Regions from separate parts of the Homo sapiens genome. Here regions 2, 3, 4, 5, 6 and 7 are each linked to region 1. The links come from fine-mapping of genetic effects on gene expression. A gene starts in region 1. Each other region holds a variant in brackets. All regions are shown on one strand. Distances are between the middles of the regions. Region 1 holds the start of XYLT1 (xylosyltransferase 1). Region 2 has its middle 370 kb from the start of XYLT1. Region 3 has its middle 91 kb from the start of XYLT1. Region 4 overlaps XYLT1 (xylosyltransferase 1). Region 5 overlaps XYLT1 (xylosyltransferase 1). Region 6 overlaps XYLT1 (xylosyltransferase 1). Region 7 has its middle 380 kb from the start of XYLT1.

The links. PIP is the estimated chance that this variant, and not a neighbour inherited with it, causes the effect.
Region 2: its variant is the best candidate, but not a certain one, in a credible set for the expression of XYLT1 in CD4 T cells (Kasela 2017, PIP 0.82).
Region 3: its variant is the best candidate, but not a certain one, in a credible set for the expression of XYLT1 in unexposed skin (GTEx, PIP 0.70).
Region 4: its variant is the best candidate, but not a certain one, in a credible set for the expression of XYLT1 in whole blood (TOPMed, PIP 0.90).
Region 5: its variant is the best candidate, but not a certain one, in a credible set for the expression of XYLT1 in T cells (TOPMed, PIP 0.58).
Region 6: its variant is the best candidate, but not a certain one, in a credible set for the expression of XYLT1 in tibial nerve (GTEx, PIP 0.87).
Region 7: its variant is the best candidate, but not a certain one, in a credible set for the expression of XYLT1 in monocytes after LPS (Fairfax 2014, PIP 0.59).

The regions. Positions count from the first base shown.
Region 1 is chr16:17,468,795-17,472,905 of GRCh38, forward strand. XYLT1 (xylosyltransferase 1) reads right to left here and starts at 2,166. Exons shown (of 12, transcript NM_022166.4): 1 at 1,640-2,166. The coding sequence starts at 2,002. LOC107987234 (a long non-coding RNA gene) reads right to left here and starts at 1,633. Exons shown (of 2, transcript XR_001752091.2): 1 at 1-1,633. LOC105371106 (a long non-coding RNA gene) reads right to left here. Exons shown (of 3, transcript XR_933144.3): 3 at 2,213-3,310. RefSeq lists enhancers at 946-1,215, 1,336-1,385, 2,160-2,661.
Region 2 is chr16:17,094,341-17,098,457 of GRCh38, forward strand. It overlaps the pseudogene TCERG1P2. Among named protein-coding and RNA genes, the nearest start is that of XYLT1, 370 kb to the right of the region's middle. The variant G/T (reference allele first, on the strand shown) is at 1,843.
Region 3 is chr16:17,560,078-17,564,194 of GRCh38, forward strand. No RefSeq gene overlaps it. Among named protein-coding and RNA genes, the nearest start is that of XYLT1, 91 kb to the left of the region's middle. The variant A/G (reference allele first, on the strand shown) is at 2,268.
Region 4 is chr16:17,356,190-17,360,189 of GRCh38, forward strand. XYLT1 (xylosyltransferase 1) reads right to left here. Exons shown (of 12, transcript NM_022166.4): 2 at 1,823-1,861. Among named protein-coding and RNA genes, the nearest start is that of XYLT1, 110 kb to the right of the region's middle. RefSeq lists an enhancer at 3,824-3,913. The variant C/T (reference allele first, on the strand shown) is at 2,359.
Region 5 is chr16:17,362,351-17,366,350 of GRCh38, forward strand. The region is part of intron 1 of XYLT1 (xylosyltransferase 1); the gene reads right to left. Among named protein-coding and RNA genes, the nearest start is that of XYLT1, 110 kb to the right of the region's middle. The variant G/A (reference allele first, on the strand shown) is at 2,116.
Region 6 is chr16:17,442,794-17,446,793 of GRCh38, forward strand. All of the region lies in intron 1 of XYLT1 (xylosyltransferase 1), which reads right to left. Among named protein-coding and RNA genes, the nearest start is that of XYLT1, 26 kb to the right of the region's middle. The variant A/G (reference allele first, on the strand shown) is at 1,854.
Region 7 is chr16:17,087,817-17,091,933 of GRCh38, forward strand. No RefSeq gene overlaps it. Among named protein-coding and RNA genes, the nearest start is that of XYLT1, 380 kb to the right of the region's middle. The variant C/T (reference allele first, on the strand shown) is at 1,700.

The DNA of each region.
Region 1 (4,111 bases):
CCCACCATGTCTCCCCTACACGTTCTTACACTGGACCAGCAGGACACGACCCACAACCCTCCCACCCCACCTCCTGGGCTCTGGATGCACAAAGAACTTCTAATTGCATTTCTGCGGGAACCCATCACTATCAACTCCAAGAGTTCAAAGGCAGCGTTTCAGAGTACCCCTCTCTGTAAAGAAGAGATCGCAGGACACTAGGAATGTTCTGGTTCTCCGTCAGGCAGCTCACGCCACTATTCTCCCCGCAAATGAGGGAAAGACTTCTCCCTGCTACCCACACAGCAACGTGAAATGCCATCACATCACGTCTTGGGACTGGCTCAGTTCTCAGGCATGAAGAGCTGCACTCCGGCAGAAAGGGTCGCACAGACTCCGAAGAAGTTTAGCAGCTCAGAAAGCATCACGCTGTGTACTAAGGCAGTCTTCAGTGAGGACTTCCAAAGTGACAAATGATAGAAATATGCATTCAGTCTTCAGGATCCTGAAACCATCCCCCTGGTGTCTAATATCCTTTAACGGCTAGGCAAATCCTTGCAGACAAGTAGTGTGATGAAGAAACAGACAGACACACAACACATTGGCTATGCCCTAAGGCAGAACTCACGCCCCTGGAGAACTGAGACCTTGGCTCTGAAATGGGGACTCCGGCCTCCTGCCCCATGTGCTCCTGCTCCTAGCTCAGTAGGCTGGGCAAGGCAGCCCAGAGAAGGTGGGAAAGGTATCCCTGGAGAAGTTAGGGACAGGGTAGGAAGACAAGTCAGTTCCCCACCCAGCCACCCAGATGGCCCCAGATCTGCGGAAAAAACAGTTTCAGAGCCCTGACTGTTCACACCCACGAAGGGCAAAGTAATCCCATAGGAGTGGAAGCCCTGACGGTGTGGTCGGACACACAGCTGGTGACCTGAACCGGCCGCAACAAGACAGAAAGACAGAGACAACCAGCTAGGAGAAGGAGCCATGCCCTGAAACTGGAGATGGGGAGGAGATAAAGTCACAGAGGGCATGGGAGACGGCAAGGTTAGAGACAGAGAAGGTGAAGACGGAAGGCTCAAACATCCAGAGAAGAGAAACAGAAGACCCAAAGTAAGACCAGACACCCCGGACTGAGTATTGATTCAGGGGCATGGTCGGGGACTTGGGACGCCCAGCTCAGCCCTCATCGCAGGCCAGGACGAACAGAGGGCTCAACTGTCTGCACCCAGCTCGGCAAAAACCAGAGAGATGCTGCTGCGACAACCGCCCAGGAACAGCGGCTGAGGATCCGGGGAGATCCACTCACTCAGGCAGGGAGCGAGTCACCAAGACCTACACGCACGGAGCAAGTCACCTGGGGTCCCCAGCAAGAGTGATGGGGAACAGGAACCCAGCCAGGCTCCGGTAACCCCCAAAGCGCCCCCGCTGGAGAAAACTTCCCCCAGACCCCAAGGGGTCCGTGCTCAGACTCTGAAAGGGGCAGCCCACGACCCCTGAGCCTTGGCAGGGACCCCACCCGGCTTCCCGGGGCAAGAGGCGATGTGGAGTCGGTAGGCTTGCAGAGTCCCAGTCTGATGACCGAGTTCAAGGGCTAGGGGGGCGTGGGGTCGGGCTGCCTTCCTCCCTCCCTCGCCGCGGGGCGCGAGCCGAAAGGGCATCTTACCAGAGCCCGGGCGGGCAGTGCCCCCCGGCTGGCCGGCTGCTGTCCCCGCGGTTCTCCGGGGCCGCCTCCCCGCGCCCGCGCCTGGGGCCCCCGTCCTCCTCCTCCTCCGCCGCCGCCTCCTCCTCCTCCTCGGGCTGCAGCCGGCTCGGCGGGCAGGTCCCGGCGCTCCCGGCGCGGGGCCGGGGCCGGGGGCGGCTGCTCCCCGCCGCCGACCGCTGCGCCCCCGCGGCGCTCCCCGGCCCCGGAGTCGAGGCTGCTGAAATTCCACACGACCAGCGTCTGCAGCAGCAGCACCGTGAGCGCCGCGAGCAGCGCCGAGTGCGAGCGCCGGGCCAGCCTCCGGGCGCACGGCGCCGCCACCATCTTCGGAGCGCGGCCGGCGAGCGAGGCGCGGGGACCCCGGCACGCTCCGGGCCGCCCCCGCGCTCCCCGCAGCTCCCGCGGCCGCCGGCTGCCGCTCGGGCTCCCGCTCGGGCCGCCGCCGCCGCCCCCCTCCCCACACCCCTGTCCCCGCTGGAGGGGAGGGTGATGGGGAAGGCGCCGGGGGGACGCGGGCCGAGGCGGAGAGGGCGGGGCCTGGGGGAGGAGCCGAGGGAGGAAAAGGAGGAGGGAAAGGAAGGGGGTGGGGGCGATCAGAGAAGACAGACACCCCTCAGGACGTAGTGGGAGTAGGATGGGGGGCGAGGGGGACAATTCCCAAGGCGGAAAAAGAGAGGCAGGGGCCGCGAAACAGGGGACCTTTGGTTGAGGGTGGGCCCGCTCAGAATCCAGGGGAGGTCAGGAAGAGAGGGGGTCCCGAGGTCCTGTTTTCCCTGTGGGCCGCTGGAAGGAGGCAGTGCGTGGAGGAAGCTCCTAGCCCCGGAGTTCGCGGTCCAGGGATCTTCTGTCGGTACCAGACCGGTTGGCAGGTGGACACGTGAGAAACATTTCAGGAGTGTCAGAGCCACAGTCTGATCCCTTCATCCTGGGCTTGAAGGGGTGGGGAGGAGGCTTTGGGTGAGTTTCTGGAGTTAATCAGCACAAGCTCTGTGAGTGACTCCTGAATCACACACAATCCCCGGTGCCAACGATGTACTAAGTGTTCACTGAGTCACTTCTCTGGTCCCTGAGGACTCACAAGCCAAGAGACTCCAAACCCAGTTGGCAAGTGGTATAGCGGCAAAAGGGAGACCCGTGGAGTTACTCAACCTTCGCAGGATGCAAGCCCCAAAGGCTGGCCCCGCAGCCTCCCAGCGTGTCCTTTTCCCCATCCATCCTGAAGTCCCCCTTCCTGTCTGCACAGGGCCCAGGTCCTGGGGAAACAGGTCTTGCTCTTGAAAGTGGAGTTCTTTCCCATCCTGACTGGTCTGTCCCGGTGACCTTGAGCCAGGAGGAGGAGGACTCCTCCCTGAGCCCAAGCTTTCTCCTCTGTCGTTTAGGCAGAATGATCCCAATGGACTCAAATTTCATCCCGAGCCTTCTCTGACTCAGTCTTTCTGGTTTTTCCCTCCCTTGTCCTCTTGCCCAGGGCTTTATACACAGCAGCGCAGAACAGTGAGCATATGGGATGGCGTTGGTGTCCCATACGGGACCTAGCACTCTGGGAATACAACAGCAGATCAAATCAGTTTGTGAATTGAGGACTTGGCGTGAATGCTTCGCATCTTGTCTGCTGTGCTTTTTCACCTCATCCTAATTTACAAAGAGAAGAAAGTGGAGTGTAATGAAGGCTCATCAGACAATGAGGCAGGGAGTGGGAAGAGATTGTTTCATCCACTCCACAAGCATCCGTGAATACAAAGCTTGTGTCAGACACTGGGCCAGGTGCACGCATCCAAAGGTGAATGAGGTTTAATCTCATCTTCAGCAAGCCTGAGGTCTAGAGAAGCCTGATGTGGATGTTAATCATTAAAATATAGTGAGATAGGCCTGGGCGCGGTGGCTCATGCCTGTAATCGCAGCACTTTGGGAGGCCAAGACAGGAGGATCACCTGAGGTCAGAAGTTCGAGATCAGCCTTGCCAACATGGTGAAACCCCGTCTCTACTAAAAATACAAAAATTAGCCGGGCATGGTGGCACACACCCCTGATCCCAGCTACTCAGGAGGCTGAGGCAGGAGAATCTCTTGAACCCAGGAGGCAGAGGCTGCAGTGAGCCGAGATCACACCACTGCACTCCAGCCTGGGTTACAGAGCAAGACTCCATCTAAAAAACGTATATATAAATATATATATATTGTATATATATATATTATATATAATGTATATAATAAATATATTATATATAATATATTTATATATATGTACATATAATATATATAATATATAATATATAACATATATATAATATATATATTTATATGTAAATATATATAATATTATATATATATATATGGTGAGATAAGCATTGCTGTAGAGATGTGCAAAAATGCTAAGGGTTCATGAGGGCAGGACGGGAGTAAGCGCCAAGAAAAAATGCTTTCTGAACCCATG
Region 2 (4,117 bases), 370 kb before region 1:
GTATTCAGACTTACTTTGTCTTGTGGGCTCTGAGGCTCTGGGAGGTAGAGGTGGACCCTGACAGTCCAGGTCATCAACATCCACATTCAGTTGAAGCCTCTCCTCAGGCACAGTCCAGTACTGAATACCATTTATCATTCTGCAAAATGTTGTCTACATCTTTCAGGTGCTGGTCATTCTTAGATTAGCTTCTTAGCTGTTCTGTTGACGAACAGAAGACTTCAATTTTCAGGATGGATGTTCCAGCATCTTCCACAAGCTTTCACTTTCACATTTTTCACTAAATTATTTGTTATAAATTTGATCTCCTTCAAAAGTCCCCTGAAGTCAACTTTGGTTGTAATGTATTTGTCTCTAACGTATTCTTCAAATTCTCTTTGTTTTTTTTCCTGTCATTGGAGGAGAACTGCACCCAGAATCTTATTTTTACTACTTCCACGTGAATGTTAAGGTACACACAGAGGTTTCATCCAGAAGTCTTCCCTCTTCTTTCTGTTAAGTACTTCAATGTGCTCATTAAGCTTCTCTTTCTCTTCCCTTTCCAACAAAGATCTAGATTCCAAGTAGTGATCTTTTTGATGAGTCCTCTATCAAACTATGACACATGTGAAGAACATACCTGAACAACCCTCAGGGATAATGCAGGATTTTTTGAGAAAGTTCCAGGGTATCTCCTGGTGTCAGTGTACTTTCAGTCCTACACCTCAGAGTTTTTTCTTTTTAATAACAGCTTTATTGAGATACAATTCATACCTTACATTTAAAATGTATGATTCAGTGGATTTGAGTATATTCAGAGTTGTGCAGCCTACACCACAAGCTAACTGTAGGATATTTTCATCACCCTGAAAAGGAACCCTACACCCATTAGCAGTTACTCCATTCTACCTACAGCCAGCCTAGGCAACCACTAATCTTTCTGCTTATTCTGGACATTTCATATGAATGGAATCATCATGTGATATTTTGTGACTGGCTTTTTTCACTTAATGTTTTCAAGGTTTATCCACGTTTAGCATATATCAATCCTTTGTTTCTTTTTAGTGCCAAATAATGGCTATGGGCATGGGGTAGAATTGCTAAATCATACAGCAGCTGTTTCATCTTTCAAGGAACTGACAGTCTGTTTTCTGAAGTTGCTACACCATTTTACGTTCCCACCCGCAATTTCTGTACATCTTCACCAACAGTTACTATTATTTCTCTTTTTAACTACAGCCATTCTAATGAATGTGAATCTCAGGGTTTGTTTTGTTTTTTGTTTTTTGTTTTTGTTTTTGTTTTTTTTGAGACAGAGTCTCACTCTGTCACCCAGGCTGAAGTGCAGTGGCACGATCTCAGCTCACTGCAACCTCCACCTCCTGGGCTCAAGTGACTCTCCTGCCTCAGCCTCCCAAGTAGGCGGGACCACAGGCATGCACCACCACACCAGGCTAATTTTTGTATTTTTAGTAGAGATAAGGTTTCACCATGTTGGCCAGGCTGGTCTTGAACTCCTGACCTCAAGTGATCCACCTACCTTGGCCTCCCAAAGTACTGAGACCACAAGCGTGAGCCACTGTGCCCGGCCTCATAGTAGTTTTGATTTACACTTCCCTAATGATTGTGTCCAGCATCTACTGGCCATTTGTTAGTGGTTTTTTCTTCTTTAAAAAACTGCTGAGACATCCATAAACATTTTCAAAATGCAGGGTATGTTTTTCAGTGTTAAGGCAACTGTTTTGATGTGTTTTCCTTTGCTCTCTATCACCAAATACTGTACATACAAATAGTAAGACTGGGCTTTGTGTTGTCCACTGTCAATCCTAAATGAAACAAAATACATGGAGACTTTGAAAATCC[G/T]TCAGAATAATGCTATAGTTAAGATTTTGCTAAAGCAAGTGTTTTTTCTAACTCCTTGAGCTGCATATTGCCTTGAGTAATCATCAACCGGATTGTATCCTCTTCGGTGGCAGTTTTGTTTCTTCTGAATTCTTCCCTTGCCCAGTCCTTCAGGTATTTGCAATCAGAATCATTTGGAACTTGCCAAATTGTTTGCAAAATCCTTCTGTAGAGGAGAAGAATTTGTTGCCTTCTTATGAACGTGGGCACTGGGCAGCTGAGGCACCGGGACTCAGGGACATCAAGCGCCTGATGCATCTCATGCGACCGCACCAAAACCCAGGGCTCTATATTTCTAATGTCCCTGTTTGCTCTTCTCCTGTTTCTTTGAAGCCAAGTTTGGGCCGATACCCATATTAGATTAATAAATCCTAGGCTCCTTGATGACAAAGGTGATATTACTATCTGCTGATCCAAACCATGAATAGTCAAGGTTGAAAAATGAAATTGGCAGGAAGAAGTGTACTTTATTGGACCCAACCTTGCAATGTCAATGTTCTTAGTTCTGAGAAATTCTTGCTCCTGGAATTCATCCAGTTTCATCTTTGGATACCTGCAACCTCCCTGCTCACAACTCATTCTTGATTAAATTAGCAGATGCTGATGATAGAATGAGACTGAGGCCAGTGATGCTAAAATAATTTCTTGCTGGTGAAGGAGGCCCCAGAGGTTTTACAAAAAAATTTTTAAAAGCACCACCTAGGGAATAGAGCCAAAATGCTCAGACACTGCATGGAAGCCAGGGATTGTATTAAATCCGAGTAATTGGAGTGGAGAGGGAGAGTGTTTTGTAGTAATTGTCATCATAGCTGGCACCAGATCTCCTCTCAGGTAAGAACATAGAAGCTTGGAACTTACGAGAGAACTTAGCTTTCCAGTATTTTTTAGGTGTGGAATGTGAAGTCATGAGGGGGGCTGGTCTGCGAAGAGTCAGCAAGGTGAAAAGAGATAACAGAGTGTCTTGGGAGGTGCAGGAGAGCAGACAGAACAGGCAGGGAATAAAGAGAGGGAGATGGAAACGTGTCTGGAAGCTGGAAATTGCCCAGGCAGGTGGCCATTGAGAGATTTCTAAAACTTCTGAGAATGGGGGTATGTAATATTCTAAATCATTTGAAATCTTATGCAATCCTTTATCTGAATGCCTTGATGGAATCTGCTTTCTACATAGCTCTACAATTGTATTTTGAGGAATAAAGGGACCAGGGTACTTATTAGGGAGAGGTCATACAGTGCAGAAAGGAGAAAAAAAAAAAAGAACTTGCAGAATAAAGGGGTGATCTGTAAAATGAACCAATTCAGTGGAAATGAGACCCAGGGTTGTAGCTGAAGTTGACTCCCCAAGACCCTCCAAAGAGATTGGGGGGCAATACTGTGTCTCCCACAGTTTGGGGTGTTTTGAAAAAATCTCATTTAAATCTCTGAAGTCAAGGTGATGCCACTTTGTCGCAAATGGAGTCTTCAGGAAGATATCCAGTCTGCAATAGCAAATGTGGAGGCCAGACTAAATGGAACGCCCCTGAGGAAATTATGGATGTAGCAGCAGTCCAGTTCACACGCTCATTCATTCATTCATCAAACACTGGCACAACATCTTACATTGTCAAGGCATGTAATGTGTGCCGAGAATATAGACACTGTCCTTGCCTTCAAGGAACTTTCACCTTTGGAGTGAGAAGGCGAAAATAACTGATATTTACTGAGCTCTTTCTGTATGCAGATACTAGGCTATCTATTTCACAGGCTTTGTCTTTTTAAAATTCTCCCAGCAGCTTTATAGGTAATTATTATCCCCTATACGTGTGTGTGTGTGTATATATATATATGTGTATATATATGTGTATATATATATGTATACATATGTGTATATACATATGTGTATATATATGTGTATATACATATATGTGTGTATATATATGTATATACATATATATGTGTATATATGTATATACATATATATGTGTGTGTATATATATGTATATACATATATATGTGTGTATATATATATGTGTGTGTGTGTGTATATATATATATATATATATATATATATATATATATATATGGAATCTGAGGCCCAGAGAGATTAGGGAATTTGTCTCAAATCTGACTTAGCTAATCTATGATAAAAAAACAAATGTTTGGACACAGGATTATCTGACCCTTAAGTTGGGGGAGGGGTTCTTATTTTGGTCAGAGGCAATTGAAAATTGGCAGTAGGTGGATCAGTCTGGATGTGTAA
Region 3 (4,117 bases), 91 kb after region 1:
CAGGGGTGAAGCATCATGATATATGAAATTTACTTTCAAATGGTTCAGAAGAACATTGTGTGTGTGTGTGTGTGTGTGTGTGTGTGTGTGTGTGTGTGTGTGTAGAGAGAGAGAGAGAGAGAGCTCCTGAGAGAGCAGAAATTGCTGTGTCAACAATTTTGAATCTAAGGCAAAAGATACGCAGATGGTCATTATACTATACTATTCTTTCAGCCTTTGTCTGGAGCCAGGCTTCCTACGTTCAAATCTTCACTCTCTCACTTACTAGCTATATGATAACTTCTGGCAAATTAAAGAAACACTCAGTGCCTCAGTTTCACCATCTTAAGATGAGAATCATTAAAATGCCTAACTCAAAGGGCTTTTGTGAGGACGAAATGAGTTAATGTACTTAGAATCATTTATTGAATTAGGTGCTCAATGTGTGCTAACTCCATAATTAGCTGTTTGTGATTAGATACATGTATAAATAGATGGGTTGATAGAGGTGGATAATAAGATGGGGAGAGGAAGGAGGGAGAAAAAAGTGGAAGGAAAGGAGGGAGGAAGGAAGGAAGGAATGAAGGAAGGAAGTAAGGAGGGAGGGAGGAAGGAAGGAAAGGAGGGAGGAAGGAAGGAAGGAAAGGAGAGACAGCTGGAATATCTCATCACTCATAGTGAGTAATGTTTTATTTGTAGTTTTCAGTAAACTTCAAGTTTCTGCACTTGGCATAAATGAGGTAAACATTATCAATGAGGTAAACGTTATTACAAACATATATGTAAATTATATAATGCCCCTACCCAGGTTCCAGCCTGCAAACCCAGCTAGAAGACGTTGTTCTTTCCACACAGGTGTTCATCACTCCTTGCGGGCATGGGCAGGAGCTTGGAACAGCAGAGTTTTTGAGACCTGGAGTGATCCCCTGGCACCCAGAGTAGAGGTGCCCTTGCTTCCCTTCCGTCTGCTCCTTCTCACCTGCCCTCCAAAGTCAATTTCAGTGCCATCTCACTGTCAGTGGTGCCCTTGTGGATACGGGAGTCCTGTTCGGCCGAGGATGGAGTCTCCCTAATGGTAATGCATGCAGAATAGGACTGGCACCTGGATTGCATTTTAAACACATTCCGCACCATTAGGCCATCCTCATCATTCACAGGACTGACGGCAGAGTTGCGGGGGCCTCCAGGCCCAGCAGCAAGTCCAGCCGGTTCATCCGGTCGGGGCATCCTGCCAAGACCCTTCAGCTGTGAAGCGGCCACTCTAGGCACAGGTGGGGAGACCTGATGAGCAGAAAGCAGCCTGGAGTCTGCCTCCTGGGAATGGGAACAAGGATTAGGGGGCCAAGCCCTGAGGAGCATCCCAGCCACTCTCCTGGGGGCACAGATTCTACCCATTGGAATAATAAGTGCTTTCTTTTTCACGCGCCTCTCTCCAACTTGCTCTAGCACTGCAGCCACTCTAACCTTATTTTCCTTTCTCCAACACACCTGGAACTTTCTTTACATGGGACCTTGACACAGGCAAATCCTTCTCTCCAGAACATTCTTCCTTCTGCTGGTTCCCTTCTTGCTGTCCAACTCACCTCCCCAGGAAGCCCTCCTAGATCTCATAATATCATAATATCAAGAGGTTGTCCCTGCCTCATTGTCTTTTACCTTTTATTTACTTATTTATTTAGAGACAGAGTCTTGCCCTGCTGCCCAGGCTGGAGTGCAGTGGTGCAATCTTGGCTTACTGCAACCTCCGCCTCCCAGGTTCAAGCGATTCTCGTGCCTCAGCCTCACGAGTAGCACCGTGCCCAGCTACTTTTTGTAGTTTTAGTAGAGATAGGTTTTCACCATGTTGGCCAGGCTGGTCTTAAACTCCTGGCCTCAAGTGATCTGCCTGCCTGGGCCTCCCAAAGCGCTGGGATTACAGGCGTGAGCCACTGCACCTGGTCTTTTATCTTGATACTTTCTTTCTTTTCCTCTGTGCCTCAGCTTCCTCCTTTGTAAGTGGGGTAACAATTGTGCGGAATGTGCTCTATTTGGTCAACTTTTCTACCATGTTCTACATTCCTTTGGCTGATCAGTTGGTTCTCATGTCCTCTGTCTGGATTCAGTCAATGAGAGGCAGGCAGAGAGGAGATGGGACTATTGATTGATCCCCTGGGCTTACATGCTTACCTGTTGGGTGGCGCTGAGTTCCTCTTTTCAAGCTTTCTGATGGACAGCTGTGTTCTTGGCTCTATTAGGTTGGTGCAAAGGTAATTGTGGTCTTTGCCATTACTTTATTTTTTTTGAGAAAG[A/G]GTTTCACTCTGTCGCCCAGGCTGGAGTGCAGTGGTGTGATCTCAGCTCACTGCAACCTCTGCCTCCTGGGTTCAAGTGATTCTCCTCCCTCTAGAGTAGCTGGGACTACAGGCACCCAGGATGCACTCGGCTAATTTTTGTATTTTTAGTAGAGATGGGGTTTCGCATGTTGGCCAGCCTGGTCTGGAACTCCTGACCTCAGATGATCCACCCGCCTCGGCCTCCCAAAGTGCTGGGATTACAGGCGTGAGCCACCGTGCCTGGCCTTTGGCCATTACTTTTAATGAAAGCGTCCCTCCGGTGTTCCTTCAGCACCAAGGGTGGTAACAGCTCCCTGATGTGGCCAGCGCCTCGGTGCTTCACTGTCCCTTGTTGGTTTCCTTGGGTCCTGCCCACACCTTTGTAAATTGTCCCTTCGCTGCACTAGCCTCAGTAATGGCTCAGACAGTGTCATCTGCTACCTACCAGGACTCTGATCCACATAATAATAGTCCCTATCTCATATGTTGTGAGGATTAAAATGATTTCAGTGCAGGATACACAGTGCTAAGATTATTATTTGCTATTATTCTCCTTCCTCTCACTTATCACACTTTGCACTTAGTTGCAATGCTAATTGCTCACTACTTTTCCCTCTGGTTAATTGACAATTTGCATGAAGAGGGAGTCTCTGTCTGTGCCTGTTCATTCAATCTCGTGATGGTCCAGTGTTAGATGCAAAATAGGTCCTCAGAAAATATCTGATGAGTGAATAAATGAATGAATGAAAGAATGAGGGTTGGTTTTCACTTTCCAAAGCACTTTTATATATCATGTTGAATTGTGTGGTAGCATGCATATTCGATTGGTTTTGTTTGATAAACACAGTAATTTCACAAGCCTTTACCTATTACATTATCCTCTTTGATCCATGAAGAATAGTCACAATTTAATAAATAATTAGACTGAGAAGAATGGAGGGAAAAGTAGAAGGGGGAAATGCTGCCTGAGAACCTATTATGTGCTCAGATTTTCCATTAGCATTTGATGGACATGATTTATTTTGATTTTCACAATGGTTATTATCATAACGACAGAAGCATCATTATTCCCTAGTTTACATATGCAGAACACAGGACAGAGAACAGTTGGAAGACTCACCCGTAGTTACTGTATTAGTCAGGGTTCTCTAATGGGACCGAACTAACAGGATAGATGTATATATAAAGGGGAGTCGATTAAGGAGTATTGACTCACACAATCACCAGGTGCGCTCTCACAATAGGCCATCTGCAAGCTGAGGAGCAAGGAAGCCAGTCCAAGCTCCAAAACAACAAAAGGAGGGAAGCCCACAGTGCAGCCTTCAGTCAGTGGTCAAAGGTCCAAGAGTCCCACAGCTGAAGAACCTGGAATCCGATGTTCCAGGGCAGGAAGCATCCAGAAAGGGAGAAAGATGGAGGCTGGGAGACTCAGCCAGTCTATTCTCTCCATGTTCTTCAACCTGCTTTTATTCTGGCCGCGTTGGCAGCTGATTAGATGGTGCCCTCCCAGATTGAGGGTGGGTCTGCCTTTCCCAGTCCAGTGACTCACATCTCCTTTGGCAGCACCCTCACAGGCACACCCAGGAACAATACTTTGCATCCTTCAATCCAATCAAGTTGACAATATTAACCATCAGAGTCACCAAGCTGGAGGGTCATAGAACTGGACTCCAGACCTCATGTGTTTCACTCAAAATGTCATGCTTTTCCCACACAGCAGTTATCCCACTGAGAGACCCCAGAGAGTCTCTTATAATGCATGCAGGGAAAGGTATAAACAAGTATCTGTTTGTAATAGCAAAACAAATGGCAGCAACCCCACGTGTCTA
Region 4 (4,000 bases), 110 kb before region 1:
TTAGAACCATTAGATTAAGGTAAGTCTATTTCTGAAAGCAAAGTGAGTTATGTTAAGGAAAAATGTATTTTTAGGTGACTTTATAGAATAGATGAAATTTACATAAGGCAAAGGTGGTCAAGGTGATAAGGACAGACAAAACCAAGCCAGAGGACAGCCAAACAGGCAGAGGAAACCGAATCCTTTTCCTCCTCAGAGCTGCACCTTCTATACTTCCCTGCCGGCCCTGGCGCCTGGTCAGCCCTGGGGCCCCCGTGGCTATACCTGTGTGCCAGAGAATGCAAGGACAGAAAAGCACAAGGAAACTGTGAAGATCTGCTGGCCTTCCCCATCAGGGAGGAAGCAAGGAAGGTCTCCTCATTCCTCTTAGGAGAACCCAAGCAGAGATGCCAAGGAGAGGGCAAGGACCCAAGGTGGAGGAGGCAAAGGCCAGGGGAGCAGGTGGTCTTTTCCAGTCCACCCCAGAAACCCTTGAAATCGCTGAGCTGTCATTCAGCCTTGAAACGTTCGAACAGGTTTGACTGTGTCTGACACTTGCAAGCTATTCACTGTGGGGCTCTGAACGAGGCCTGTCCTGTCTGCCTACTCTCTTTACTGTCAGCCAAACCCAAAGAGCTAAGGAAATGATTAATCCAAAGATAAGAAACGTCCCCTTCAGATCCAGCAGGAAAAGTAACAGTTCTATTGGTTTAAAAAGCTGCCACTTGCCGGACGCAGTGGCTCATGCCTGTAATCCCAGCACTTTGGGAGGCCAAGGTGAGCGGATCACAAGGTCAGGAGATCAAGACCATCCTGGCTAACACGGTGAAACCTCGTCTCTAGAAAAAATATTAAAAAATTAGCCGGGCGTGGCAGCGTGCGCCTGTAGTCCCAGCTGCTGGGGAGGCTGAGACAGAAGAATGGCGTGAACCCGGGAGGCAGAGCTTGCAGTAAGCCGAGATCATGCCACTGCACTCCAGCCTGGGCAACAGAGACTCGGTCTCAAAAAAAAAAAAAAAAAAAAAAAAAAACGCTACCACTCACAAGCACTTAGCACGTACCCCGGACTTTATAAACATCATTTCCTGTGACCCTCAACCACAACTCTGCAAGGTGGGCACTATCACTGGGATGACGTTTCAGATGCGAAGACACTGGCTTAGACATTATGTGGCCCCATGAACACTGCAGGGCTAGAAGACACAGAGGTGGAATTCCACCTGGCTCTGTTGAACTCCAAGGCCTATACTCATAGCTGCTGCACTGTCCTAGCTCCCAGGAAGGCAGAAAGCAGACAGTCAGGGCCGTGCCCTCCCTTACAAGACCCGCTGGTCATCCTCCTCCCCACACGGAAATGCCACTGCAATCACAATTCCTCAGAATGGCCTAACACGCAAGCAGATGAAAGGGTGCAACTTCCTTCCATATGCTGCCCTCACTGCCAAGGAATAAAAGTCCTCCAAGTTCAGGCATCAAAGAGTAGCATCTTCCCACTTCATGGCTCTCCTCTGTCTCCTCTCTCCTTTGCATGAACCTCCGCATGATGGTTGGGCAGGAGCGAAGGACAGACGAAAACTCAAAAGAAATGATTATGGTTCTCGCCACAGGTGGGAGGGGCACCAGACACCTGGGTGCGAATGTGCACCCATGCACACCCACACCATTGCACACACGTGTACACTATATGCCAGTGTGTATACATACATGTGCAGGCACACACACATCCAAATGGGACCAGGGGCAGCCATGGGCCTGTCCAGCCTTTCAGAGCCACGGGACAAGTCCCCTTGAGAGCTGGAATACTAAGGCTGAGATAAGTGGCCAAGACAGGAAAGATACTTACCTGAGTCTCCAGGGTGATGAGCGGACTTGGGTGTGGATCCTGTAGGATGAAAGGAGAAAATGCACGTGAGGAGTGAAAAAAAGTTAACTTACTACCCCAGCATCTTTTTCTTTCTTTCCTTTTTTTTTTTTTTTAAGAGACAGGGTCTCGCTTTGTTGCCCAGGCTGGAGAGCAGTGGCATGATCATAGCTCACTCACTGCAGCCTCGACCTCCAGGGCTCAAGTGATCCTCCCACCTCAGCCTCCCAAGTAGCTATGACTACAGGCATGCACTATCATGCCAGGCTTTTTTAAAAAATTATTTTTGTAGAGATGGGGTCTCGCTATGTTTCCCAGGCTGTTCTCCAACACTTTGGCCTCAATGATCCTCCCACTTCGGCCACCCAACGTGCTGGGATTATAAGCATGAGCCACCACGCCAAGCTCCCAGCATCATTTTCAAACAAAGCTTGATTTCCCCAGTGGTCAAGCCACCCCACGGGGAGGGCAGCCCAACCTGTGTCCTCCATTCTACAGAGACATCAGGACAGCTTGGC[C/T]CAGTCTGCAGGCCGCCCCAACACTTCCTCTCACGCACAAGTGATGAAAGAGGCTCAAGTTTTTATGAAGGAAATGCCCACATGGAGATCACACAAAACAACAAAATGTAAAGAAAAAAGAAACAAGGCACCCTTGCCAAAGAGCTCAACGTGTATCCAAACCCTCTATAAGGAGAGTTTGGCTCCGTAAGAGGATTAGGAATAAACCAGAAAGAATATAAAGTCCTGACTAGGAACAAGGCCATCATCAATTTGTGTCTGATCTTGGAAAGAACAAGGGAAGGAATGAGAGCGAGCAGCTTAATTTCTGGTTTGAGGAGCACATTCCATGGTCTGGGGAAGGTCTTTTTTTAGGATAGAGAAGGCCAGAGAAATGTCCTATTCATTCACTCTGTACAAAAGCCGATTGACTGGGAATGCTTGGTGGTACTGTCTCGGGTCATTAAGCATGAACCCTTTGGGTTGGAGGAGAGACAGGGAGGGTACAGGAGGAGGAAAAGACTGATGGGAGGAGTTGGTGGTGTCCAGTGAGTGGTTTCCAAAGAAAACAGGAAACCCAGCACATGAAGGCTATTTCTGTCTATACCACGTCTGCTCTGAACTTAATCATCTTGGATTTATAATTCTGGGAAAAACAACCTCAAGCTTCCTCTGATAGAGAATGGGCATGATTTTAGGGCCCTGAAGTACACATCCAGTTTGAAGCTTTGCTTTGTCTTAGCAGATTTTCCACCACGGGGTTTTAGGAAGCCATGCAAATTAGCACCAGCCCATTGTCCCATACTGTGAGCAAGAAGGAAATGCAGGGAAATTGGAACTTTCTAAACCCCTTCTCTAGGTGAGCTGCCATTCACTGTCTTGATGACTGTTCTACGGTATCTTTGTAATGATGCCCAATTCTGAGGAGTGTAAGAGGCACGATCTCAGAAATACGGTGAGCTCTGCTCAGCTCTGTCCTTTAGGAAGAGGAATTCGTCGTCCCCCAACTCCAATTCTGAGTCCAACTCCCAGTAATTCTCCATTGGTGTAACTGAAAGGAAACTGCCAAGAGAACATCCCACTCTAATTCTCACATTCCCCCAGGCATTGAGTCTTCCTCATACCCAAGAAAACATGGAGGGGAATATGTTCTCCCCGTCTCCCCACATTGCAGCCTTGACCTATAAAGGAATCTGGGGAAGTCATGAAGGAGCTGTTTTGGGCCTGTCTCTTCAAATCCTTACTGATTCCTTCCCAGGGGTGAAGAAGTGGCAGCTAGGATTGGTAAAACCCGACATTCATAGAGCAACTTTCTTTTGATCAGGCAGGTTTTGTATCACTCGCATGCAGAAAGAGTCTACTCTGTACTTCCTGTTTCCCTGTGTTGGGGCAGGACCCATTTTTGTCTTTGGGAAGCAAGACCATCCTCCTGGTCTGTGGGTGGCAGCATGAGTCAGACCTGGTACGAGCTTAGTGGGCGAGAGCATGCAACATCTGCTGTTCAGGTCAGAGTAGTCTGTGTCTGTCTGTCTGTCCATTCAGATCTTACCACCTCGATTTTGATTATAAGATAAGAAGCTGCATCTCAGCCTCAAAATTAGCCTCAATCTCCAAGCCAAGTGCTAGCAAAGCACCAGACTGGGGTGTTGGGTGCATGCCCAGA
Region 5 (4,000 bases), 110 kb before region 1:
AACCATGTAAAGTTAGCTAAATCAATCCACACGTGTTTACTAAGTTCCGATTCAGTAGCTAGCTCTATGCGTGGCAGGCACCATGAGGGAGACAGAAATGAGTTTAAAGTGACTCTGTGTACACTGCTATTCCCAAAGGTAACTGTTTAAATAAGAGGCAGGAGCCTGATTACAGGTCTTAGAGCAATGAAACTTGTCTACACCTCAAAAGTCTTGCTTGTAAGACCAAGAAGCCAGGCTCAAGGCCAAAGGCTTAATTTTAACAAGCAATTAAGCCCCAACAAAGAAAGTAGAGAGAGGAGGAGGACTTTGTTCGTTATCATTCCACACATACATCAAACCTATCTGGCTCTCCTGGCGGATTCTGAGCCCTGAGCTAAGCCTCAGCCATTGGAAAGCATGTTCTCTTCCTTTGCTTTGAGGACATTCAGAAGACAGTGCTTGTTCTTTGGTGTTAGGCAATGACATTGGTGTAGAGATAATGACACTGGAACTCACGCCTTCAGAGCCAGGTATCTCCGTGAAGCCCACCAAATCAACAACATAGACAATGGACATTTACATGCTACCTTCTTCCACAGACGCTCCCAGGGAACACTTCAGAAGGCTGGCTTGGTGCCTTCTCTCCGCCAAGAGCCCTCTAATTAAGGCCAGAACTGGGAATCTTCCACCATCAAAAGATGGTGTCTCACTGTCACTCATCATCCAACCACCAGATAACTTGGAAAATCTAAGAAACTCTTCTTGGGATTGCAGATCACAGCGAATGAAAACTCACTCATGACTCGAGCCTGCTGGAGAATGTCCAGCTCTAGCCAAGTCTGAATGACCAGCCAGAAACCTAAAGGGACACTGTCACTTAGCTGCAGGCCTAGTAGTGCAGGACAAAGATGAATTATTCAGTGGGAAAAGAGGGCAGGTTTAGGGGTCGCCCCAGAGTTCAAACCATACATAACCACTGTATTCATTTGCTAGGGCTGCTATAATAATACACAGGTGAGGTGGCTTAAACAACAGAGATTTATCCTTTCACAGTTCTGGAGGTTGAAAGTCCAAGGTCAAGGTGTCTGCAGGTCTGGCTTCTGAGGTCTGATTCTCCTCCTAGCCTGTAGAGATGGTGGCCTTCTCACTGTTTCCTCACACAGCCTTTTCTCTATGCATCCCGGGTATCTATGTGTCAAAATTTCCTCTTCTTTTTGGGGTGCCAGAAATGGAGTCTCATTCTGTGGCCCAGACTGCAGTGCAGTGGCACAATCCAAGCTCACTGCAACCTCCGCCTCCTGGGTTCAAGCGATTCCCCTGCCTCAGCCTCCCGAGTAGCTGGGATTACAAGTGGTTGCCACCACGCCCAGCTAATTTTTTAGAATATTTTTAGTAGAGATGGGGTTTCACCATGTTAGCCAGGCTGGTCTTGAACTCCTGACCTCAAGTGATCCACCTGCTTCAGCCTCCCAAAGTGCCGGGATTACAGCTGTGCACCATCATGCCAGGCTAATTTTTGTATTTTTAGTAGAGATGGGCTTTTGCCGTGTTGGCCAGGCTGGTCTCGAACTCCTGACCTCAGGTGATCTGCCTGCCTCACCCTCCCAAAGTGCTGGGATTAAAGGCATGAGCCACCAGGCCTGGCTCAAATTTCCTTTTCTTATAAACAAACCAGTCAGATTGGATGAGGGCCCCATTAATTTAATGCAATCACCTCAGTAAAGGCCTTATCTCCAAATAGTCACATTTTGAGGTATTGGGGGAGGAAGGGTTTCAACATATGAAATTAGGGTGGGGGTACAATTCAGTCCATAACAACCACCTAGCACCACTTGCGACCTTGGGCAAAGTCCTTAGCTTCTGTGAGCTTTATTTTTCTCACTGACCCCCACGTAAACAGGTAGGATTATACTTGCCAACAGAGCTACTGTAACAAAGTGGAAAACAGATTTTCTGGGACCTTTTTGTAAGGGACACTATTAATAATTATACAAGCTTAACAGGTATAAACCCAGACTGTCCCAGGAAACCCTAAGATAGGCTCCTCTTTGTCTTGAACACAGCATACCACTGACATCATGAGTTGTCGTGAACATTAAATAAAAATAAATACTGTACATAGTTACAACCTCA[G/A]AAATGATCTTCTCTTTGATTTCTTCCTCCAGGCTTACAAAGGCTGAGACATATCCCTCTATACTCAACCCTACTAAACCACAAGTCTTCTGAACTGCAAGTTACCGTAGATACGAGTGCAACCTATGTCACGTGACGGCAGTGAACTGAGCAAATTTAGCTAATTCGTTTTGAATGCTTACTTTATGCCAAGCATACGAAATTCCTGCAACGCTGCCAAGGGAGGTATCATGATCCCCATTTTATAGATCAGATAACTGATACTCTCAGAGAATAATTTGCTCAAAAACACAGGGCTAATCAGGAATGGAGCCAGGAGCAGTAAGCAAGTTTGTAAGTTGCCAGAAACTAGTCCTTTAACCGATATCCTGGTGTTAATCAAAAGTATGAACTTACTGAATCAGAATCTCTGGGCAAGGGTCCAAGGAATCTACATTGTTATGAAACACCCTTGGGGGATTCTTACGTACGCTGAACCGGAGAGACTTTACATGATACCTAAACTCTACCATGTGTAATGCAAGACTGAAAAAGCTTCCAAACTGACAAAGAATACGATTCCTGCCTCTGATCCCCAGCCAGCCATCAAGTGTCGGATGCATGCGTGAAACTCTTAAGAGCGTTGGTGTTCACGCTCTGCACCCCCAAGAAATTTCCAGGACGGGTGCAAAGTGTTCCCTTCTCCCCACTTTGGTGAAGAGATTTGCCTTGCCCTAAAAAACCTGGCTACCACCCTCCACTTTCCAGCATTTCCTCCTCAGGGAAGTGGGACTCTTTTTCAACTCCTCCTTCTTAGGGTCTCATTGCAGCAACCAAGGTGTTGCATAACGGGGCTTTCTCTTCAGATGTCCCCATGGGATTTCACACTGGCTCCTAAGACGAAGGCTGGGCACGTGCAGGGCAGGCGGCATGGGGTGATGAGGGAGGGATGCCAGTGATACAGAGGTGTCCTTGTTCTCTAAAAAAGACTGCATTTGGAATGTGAATGCAGGCCAGAATCACACAGCCCTCACCTTGTTGGAAAATGTGAACTCACCTTCAAATAGGGCTCAGGGGAGAAAACAGAAACCCCACAGAGAGAACAAGGGGATTCTCAATGTTTTACAGAAACGTTGGCAGTTAAAACTGGGTGTATTGCGCGCTCTCTTTCTCTCTTTTGTATTAAAAGCTTAAAAAGCTGGTCTTTCTGCTATCCTACTTTCATTCTACATTTTTTTAGCCCAGGACCCAGAAATGAGCAGTAGAACCTTAAAATGAAGCTTAGGCCCTTGGAGATGGCAATTCATCACCCACAGCCTTGGAAGATAGAGAAACCACAGACTCATGGAAACTTGGGAATTATCTTAATGCTTCTCCAGCTTGGTATGTGTATCCTTGAGCACAAATGGTTATCAAAAATCTAAACTCCTGTATTTAATACTTTGTTCTGTGTGTGCCTCAAGAGGTTTTGTAATTCTTTAAAAAGTACACAGAATTACCATCTTAGAATTACAAGGTTTTGAAGAAACCTACCTGAAAAGATTAGAGGCTTGAGCTACAGAGTGTTAAGACAAGAATGCCCAACTGGTGGCCTGTGGATGCTTCAAGCTGGTTTGCTTTTTTTTTTTTTTTTTGGCCTGCAGCCTTGATGAAATACTTGAAATCATTCATTGCCAATGTTTTAAAACCAGGATACTTCACATGCAAATCTAGATTTCTCACGTCTCCTTTAAGAACAGAAGATTTAGCAACACTGGATGTGTATTCTTGCAAGAAAACAGCTCCAGACTGAGTAGCTGGCCTGGCTACTGCAAGCAACAGAATTTATCACCCCCATATTAATGCAAATTGCCTAAGGTCACATAGCTAGTCAATATTGACAATAATCAAAATACCAGCTAACATT
Region 6 (4,000 bases), 26 kb before region 1:
AAACAAGATCGCCTTATTCCTACTCAAATTAGCAACTTCATGGCTTAACCTTCCTCCAAAACTAAACTGAGAGTGGCAATATAGGGGATTTGGATTTTCTTCTTCACATATTCATCTCCTAAATGTTTCTCGGTGAACGTGTGTTACTTTAATCAGCAAAGATGATACAAATTATTGATTCATTCTGCATTCACTCTATGAGAGGCAGAGTTAGCTCAGCATTTGAGGACTGGACGCATTGGAGCAGACCGCTTGGGTGCAAATCTCGACTCAACTCTGTGACCTCAGGCAAGGGTCTTAAATGCTTTTGTAAAATAAGTATGAAAATTGTAGTTACCTCACAGGGTGGCAGAGATTAAAAGTTAATTGAAGCAAAGGAATTGGCATGTGCCTGACAAATAGTAAATGCTCAGTAAGTACTTGCTACCTATATTATCATCATTTTATAGTATGTATATATAGTATGATATAAAATATAAACATACATGATATAGTATCTGATATGGTTTGGCTCTGTGTCCCCACCCAAATCTCATCTCGAACTGTAATCCCCGTGTCGAGGGAGGGACCTGGTGGGAAGTGATTGGATCATGGGAGTGATTTCCCCCATGCTGTTCTCATGATAGTGAGCGAGTTCTCACGAGATCTGATGGTTTAAAACTGACAGTTTCCCCTGCATTGTCTCTCTCTCCAGCCACCATGTAAGATGTGCCTGCCTTCCTCTTTGCCTTCCACCATGATTGTAAGTTTCCTGAGGCCTCTCCAGCTATGCGGAACTGTGAGTCAATTAAACCTCTTTTGTTTATAAATTATCCAGCCTCAGGTGGTACCTTTATAGAAGTGTGAGAATGGACTAATACAGCATATATTAAGTTCCTGCTACATGACAGGCATTAGAAACGTAGTGATACAACTAATCACCTAACCCCATGGGTCTTAACCTATCTAGCAGGAGTGGGACATTATATAAATACACACCTCTTTCTGTTCCAGGATCCAATCCAAACTGCTTTGCACTTTGTCATCATATCTAGACTAGAGGGTTTTCTTTTTGAAAGCTCAAAGCTGATCCTTTTCCTGCTTTGAGCTCCCAATACTTTTCCATGACACTCTCAATAAAATCCAAACTCCTTGCTTTGGTCTCAATCTCAAAGCTCCCCATATTTTCACCCACTGACCCCTCTTCCTTTCCCCCACCAGGCTCCCCTCACTCAATGACCACCAGGCACACTGGCCGTTCATCAACTCTTTGAATCCCAAGCTTCCTCCAGCCTTCACATTTTCTGTGCCTCCTGGCTGGAAATCTGTTTCCTCAGAGGTCCTCATAATGTTTCCTCTTCATGTTTAGGTGTAAGTGCGAATATCACCTCCTCAAGGAGGCCTTCCCTGGTCATCCCAGCCAAACAAGTCTCAGCCCACCATAGTCACCGTCTAATACACAGTGGTTTTTAGAAGACCACTAATTGCTAAACTAATCCTATTTATATGTTTATAATTTACAGTCTAACCCTCAGTACTGGAGTATAGGGACCTTTTCTATCTTGTTCACTACTTTTTTTGTCTTTTTGAGACAGGTTCTCACTCTGTCACCCAGGTTGCAATGGTGATCACAGCTCACTGTAACCTCAAACTCCTGGGCTTCAGTGATCTTCCTGCCTCAACCTCCCAAGAAGTTGGGACTACAGACACATGCCACCATGTCCAGCTAACTTCTTCTTCTTTTTTTTTTTTTTAATAGAGACAGAGTCTCACTATGTTGCCCAGGCTGGTCTGGAATTCCTGGTCTCAAGTGATCCTCCCGCCTTGGCCTCCAAAGTGCTGGGACTACAGGCACAAGACACCATGCCCAGCTC[A/G]CCATTTTATTGTAGGTGCCTAGGAGAGCATGCTGCACATAGTAGATGCTCAATAAATATTTGTTAAAATAAATACTATTGGAAGGAATGAATGGATGAAGGACAGGCATATATTTTCAAATGTTCACAGATGTGTCGCAAGAACCTAGTGCAGTGCCTGGCACATAGTAGGTGCTCAATGAGTACTTGTCAAAATACAGACTGAGGGAATGAATGGATAAAGGGCAGACATGCACTTTCAAATGTTCATTGATGTGTCCCTAGAACCTAGCTATGGCACCTGGAGCATAGTAGGTGCTCACTAAATATTTGGTAAAATAAAAATGGGTTAGAAGAGTGAATGGATGAAGGGAGGACACCATTTGTTTTTTTAGACAGGGTCTCACTCTATCACCCAGACTGAAGTGCAGTAGCACGATCTCAGCTCACTACAACCTTTGCCTCCAGGGCTCAAACAATCCTCTCACCTCATCCTCCCAAGTAGCTAGGACCACAGGCACCAACATGCCAGGCTAATTGTTTGATTTTTGGAAAGACAGGGTTTCACTATGTTACCCAGGCTGGTCTCAAGGAGCCTGAGCTTAAGAGATCTTCCTGCCTCAGCCTCCCAAAGTGCTGGGATTACAGGCATCAGCCACACTTGTTCACTGATACGTCCCAAGAACCTAGCCCAGTGCCTGGCACGTAGAGGCTGCTCCATAAATATTAATATTTGTCAGATGAATGGCATTTGAGTGAGCACCATCCATTGTTAAAGAAAGAGGTGACCACATAGAGTGAGTCGGCTGGAGGCCACTCTTCTGCCCAAGGGCCTCTCTCAAGAAGTCACCAGAAAGGAAGGCTGGGAGCCCTTCCTGGCAGCTGCCAGAACATCTGTCTAGAGAGGCCCCGGGCTCACCTGGGCTGCGTGGAGGCCTGGGCTGGGCTCTTTTGAGCGACTCTCACTACTGGCTCAGGAAGTTCCACCCAGTGCCGCCCCAGCATGGAGGCTCCTCTGTGGCCTCAATGCAAACTCGCCTCAGAAAAGGCAGCTGATTAACACGCGTGGAGGGTCTATTGTCTGAATCCCGTCACCAGCGGAGAAACAGCTGTTTATAGTTTGTTTATTCCTCTCCCTTTGGAGCCCACGGGAGGAAACACAAGCGCTTGTTCTCAGGGGCACCATTCAGCAGCTGAAGTGAGTGAAGAAAACGGTGTTTATTTTTAATGGGATAAAGAGGGGGAACTCTTACAAAGTTTGGACACTAGCAGGGAGACCGCTCTTCAGGAGGCACCAGGCCTTGTGGTGATGTGTTGCACCCTGCCTCTCGAGGGATGCTCAAGAGTCTATTCCAACTCCCAGCTGGAAACTCAGGCTCGGGCCACGGTGGTCGGTCAAACAGTAGACTTGGGTGAGCACCTATAGATATGAGAGATCTAGAAAAGCTCGTCAGGCTTGAAAATGAGAGAGCAAGATTTCTTTGGAGAGCAACCACCTGCTATTTAATATAGGTGACATCCTATAAAGGGCTGCCAAGCCCAGTTGTGCAGGCTGGGCACTGCACAAAGGTGTCCAGCTGAGGGAGAAATCCAGCCTCTGTGAGCTGCTCATCAAGCCATGCTCCACAGTTTCAAAAATAAATACATACATAAATAAAGATGACTAAGTGAGACAACAGCAGTCTCACAGATATATAGATGTATTTATGTACTTCATCTTTAAATGCTCACTTATTGACTCTTCACAATAACCTTTCAGATTAGGGACCACTGTCATCCTCACTTTACAGATGGCACACTGAGGCAGAGAGAGGGAACCTGACTGCTCCAAGCTCATCCAATTAGGAAGGAGTGAATCCAGGATTCAAACCCAGGCTCTTGGTTTCCATCAACAGGTGATGCTGCCTCTTCTAGGAAAAAAAAATGGCTCAACAAGCCCCAGAGTGTCATATTCAGAAAACACAGTGCCCCTCCCAGTCTTGGGAGTGAGACCTGCTTTCAGAAACACCCATGTCTTCCCTCGATTCTGCAGGTGATCAGGCTGGAAGGAGGTAGGCGAAGACCCCATCGTCTGCATTACAAGGAACTCCTTCTAAAGACTCAAAAGATTTGCTCTGAACTGGTGAAAGTCTGGGGACTCCCACTCAGCCTGGAGACTCAACCAACCC
Region 7 (4,117 bases), 380 kb before region 1:
GCTAAATTTGCAGATGAGGAAACTGGGGCTTGGAGACATTCACTTATCAGTCTAAGGCCAGAGAATAGTGGCAAAATTAGCATTCAAACTTGGGCCTGATTTTAAAATTCATGGGCTTAGCAAGTTTGCTACAAGGACTCTTGCGCTAACTCTGGGTTCATAAATGAGTCATCCAACACCTTTTGCCTTCATGCCCTCACCCATTGGATAGATGAATCCATTCCTACTCACATCTCAAGGCTAAATGAAAGAACGCGTGTTTGTGAACAGGCATCAGAATACATATAACTGGAAGGGGTGCCATAATTCATTTATTGTGTTCTGGCTCCCCACCAGCCTAACAGGGCCTGTTATTATGTGACCTCCCATTGCTTAAGCCTCTGATAAGACAGTAAGTCTGTATACAAGGTGACCATGAACTGCTACCTGCTTTCCAATTGCTGTTGGAAGAGCTCCTTATACCTTACGAGGCTAAGAAGATAGAAGAGGTATTTCGCTCTGGTTTTGAGCAATTTGTTCTACTCTGTGAACTTCTGTGTCTGCTTATCCAGTTTCATGAAAATTAGATTAACGAGTACTAATTGGTGCTGACTCCGCTAGCTTAAAATGGATGGTGTCAAATGGAAGAGGAGCCCACCAGTGTGATGTTTGGATCCCAAAGCTGCTGGGAATTAAGTTTCTGCATGGATGTCGATATCATAGGTTACTTGTGGCAGCTTGCTCCAAGCTACTTTTATGGAACACAGTGTCACCCCCACAGATCTTTGAAAGGAGGAAGGATGCTTTTTCCAAAGAGGATTTGCTTCAGATGATTTGGTCAAAATGCTCATTCATTCGAGGAATCTTTTTTGAGCACCTATTAGATGCCAGGCTCTGTTTTGGACTCAGGGGTACCAGTGGTGAATAAAACAGGCAAAGTTCCATCCACATTAAGCATACATTCTACCTAAGGTTGGTAGACAATAATGAAGTAAATATATAATGTCAAGCAGCATTTCCATCTGATACTTGTATATTGATTAAATATGAGATAAACACATATTTTAAAAATGCTTTGTTGAGATATAATTCATATACCATAGAATTCATCCATTGAAAATATACAAATCAGTGGGTTTTGGTATATTGAGTTGTGTAATTATCACCACAGTCAATTTTATAACATTTTCATCACTCCAAAAAGAAACTCAGCAATCTTTAGTTATCACCCTCCTATACCCCATACCCTACCTCCAGTCCTAGACAACCACAAATCTACTTTATATATAGATTTGTCTATTCTGGATAGAGAAAATATCATCTTTTGAGAGTGAGGAGGCATGGGAGGAGACTTTACTGTCCTCACCTCCCAGATGAGGCATTTTGGATTTAGTTTTCCTTGGAGCTCCCTCTAAGATCCAGACTTTTAATCGCTTCACAGGCTCAGTTTCTGGGGGATAGTAGGGGTGCTGGCCAGTGTCCTGATACAGATCCTCTTTTTTACCACTTTACCTTTCACCTCTAAGTCCTACTTGAGATAACAGGTGCAGAGCCAGTCAGCAACTGAGAGTAAATATGCATATATGGAAACAGAAGACACTCCAGTCAGCTGTGCAGTCACATCTCCAAGCAATAAATAAGCACATCATGTTTATAGAAGCCTCACTGTAGTCCAAATTACTGTAATCTCTTACCTGGACTGTTTTAGTAGCCTGGTCTC[C/T]GGTCTCCCCATGTTTCATCTTGCCTCTCTTTCAGCCTGTTCTTCCCAAGATACCACAATAAATGTTTCAAAGTGTGAATCTGTCCATGTCACTCTCATGCTGATGAAAATCCCACATAGTCCTCAAGGTAGTCAAGGCTTTCCTTTATAGCCCCTGAGGGCCTGCAAAACCTGATCCCTGGAAGCCTTTCCGGCATCATCTGTCACTATTCTTCCTCCAGTGTCTAAATCACTTTTAATTCCTGCGAAGTGTCACATAATCTCTAGCCGGCCTTTGCCCTCTCTGGAACATTCTTTCCTACCTGCATTGCCTGACTAGCTTCCATATGCCCTTCAGGTCCTAGATTAGAGATGACTTCCTTTAGTGGGAGGCCTTCCTTGTTTCTTCAGGATGTGGTTAGGTACCTGTATTAGCTTTCTACTGCTGCTTAACAAATCACCCCAAACTTAACACCTTAAAACAACAAACATTTCACATTTTCTGTGGGTCAGGAATTCAGGAGTGGTTTAGTTGTATGCTTCTGGATCAAGGTCTCTCATGAGTTGTAGTCATGGTGTTGGCCAGAGCTGCTGTCATCTGAAAGCTTGACTGGGGCTGGAGGGTCTGCCTTGAAGATGGTACATTCCCATGGGTGTTGGCAGAGGGCCTCAGTTCCTCATCTCGTGGGCCTCTTCATAGGACTATTTAATGCCCTTACAACCTGACAGTTGACTTCTCCCGTGATAAGGTTTGTGTGTCCCCACCCAAATCTCATCTCCAATTGTAGCTCCCATAATTGCCACATGTCATGGGAGGGACCTAGTGGGAGGTAATTGAATCATGGGGACAGTTTCCCCCATACTGTTCTTGTGGCAGTGAATAAGTCTCATGAGATCTGATTTTTTTTTTTTTTTTTTTTTCCTGAGATGAAGTCTCACTCTGTCACTCAGGCCATAGTGCGGTGGCACGATCTCAGCTCACTGCCACTTCCGCCTCCTAGGTTCAAACGATTCTCCTGACTCAGTCTCCCAAGTAGCTGGGATTACAGGTGTGTGCCACCACGCCCAGCTAATTTTTATATTTTTAGTAGAGACGGGGTTTTGCCATGTTGGCTAGGCTGGTCTCAAACTCCTGACCTCAGGTGATCAGCCCGCCTCAGCCTCCCAAAGTGCTGGGATTACACATATGAGCCACCGCGCCTCGCCAATCTGATGGTTTTATAAAGGGGAGTTCCCCTGCACAAGCTTTCTCTTGCCTGCTGCCATGTAAGGTGTCCCTTTGCTCTTCCTTTGTCTTCTGCCATGATTGTGAGGCCTCCCCAGCCGTGTGGAGCTGTGAGTCCATTAAACCCCCTTCCTTTATAAATTACCCAGTTTTGGGTATGTCTTTATTAGCAGTGTGAGAGCAGACTAATACACCCCAGAATGATCAATTCAAGAAAGAGTTGGGGGAAGCTGCAATGCCTTGTATGCCCTGGCCTCTGAAGTCACACACTTCTATCGTAATCTATTTGTTAGAAGCAATTCCAGTCAATCCATCTCACATTTAAGGGGGAAGAAAACTATGCTCTACCCATTGAAAGAAGGAGTTTCAAAGAATTGGTGAACATTAGTGACCCTTGTATCCTGTCCTTACAGTTCCTGCACTTACCCCTAAATTAGCTGTTAGCACACTGAGTTGTCATTGTCTATCTCTTTGACCATGAGTTCTTCAAGGATGAAGACTTACTTCCTTTCACAATATTTAGAATATTTCTAAATTCTGTCACAGTTCCTTAAATACTGTTTAGTAACCACTTATTTGGTGAATCAATGACCTGTTCTAGATGCCTGAAAGGTATAGATCAGTGCTTCTCAAACATTAATGGGCATCCCTGCAAATCACCCAGGTGTCTTGCTAAAATGAGGATTTTGATTCAGTAGGTCTGGGGTACAGCCCGAGACTGTTTTCCTAACAAGCTCCAAGGGGATGCTGTGCTCCATGGAGCACACTTTGAGTGGGTTAGGGTTTAGAAGATATGATCCCATTTCTAGATAAGCTTCATAACCCAACTGGGAAGACACACTTCCCCCAGTAGGGCAGCCCAAGGCTGGCCATGAAGTAGTGTCAGCCTAGTCATGGGCAAACCTGCAGTATACTGGACTCGCTTTCCCTCCAGCAGCCCTGATTGATTGAAGAGATGTCAGTGAAGGACAGTCAAGGAAGGGTCTGTGTGATATAGGAAGCCTTCCAAGTAGGCAGCATATTGTCATTTGGCTCTGGAAGGTAGAGCTGGGCGGGGGCCACTCATGTATATGCCAAGGGGTTGCATAGCGTGAGCAAGGGTGGAGGGAGGCTGAGTCAACTCCTTGGGGGGGATCTGAAAGAAAGCTGGGGTTGAGTGGTGGCAGGTGATGGAGTCCCCATCTACACCTCAGAGAACTCATGAGCCCAGACTG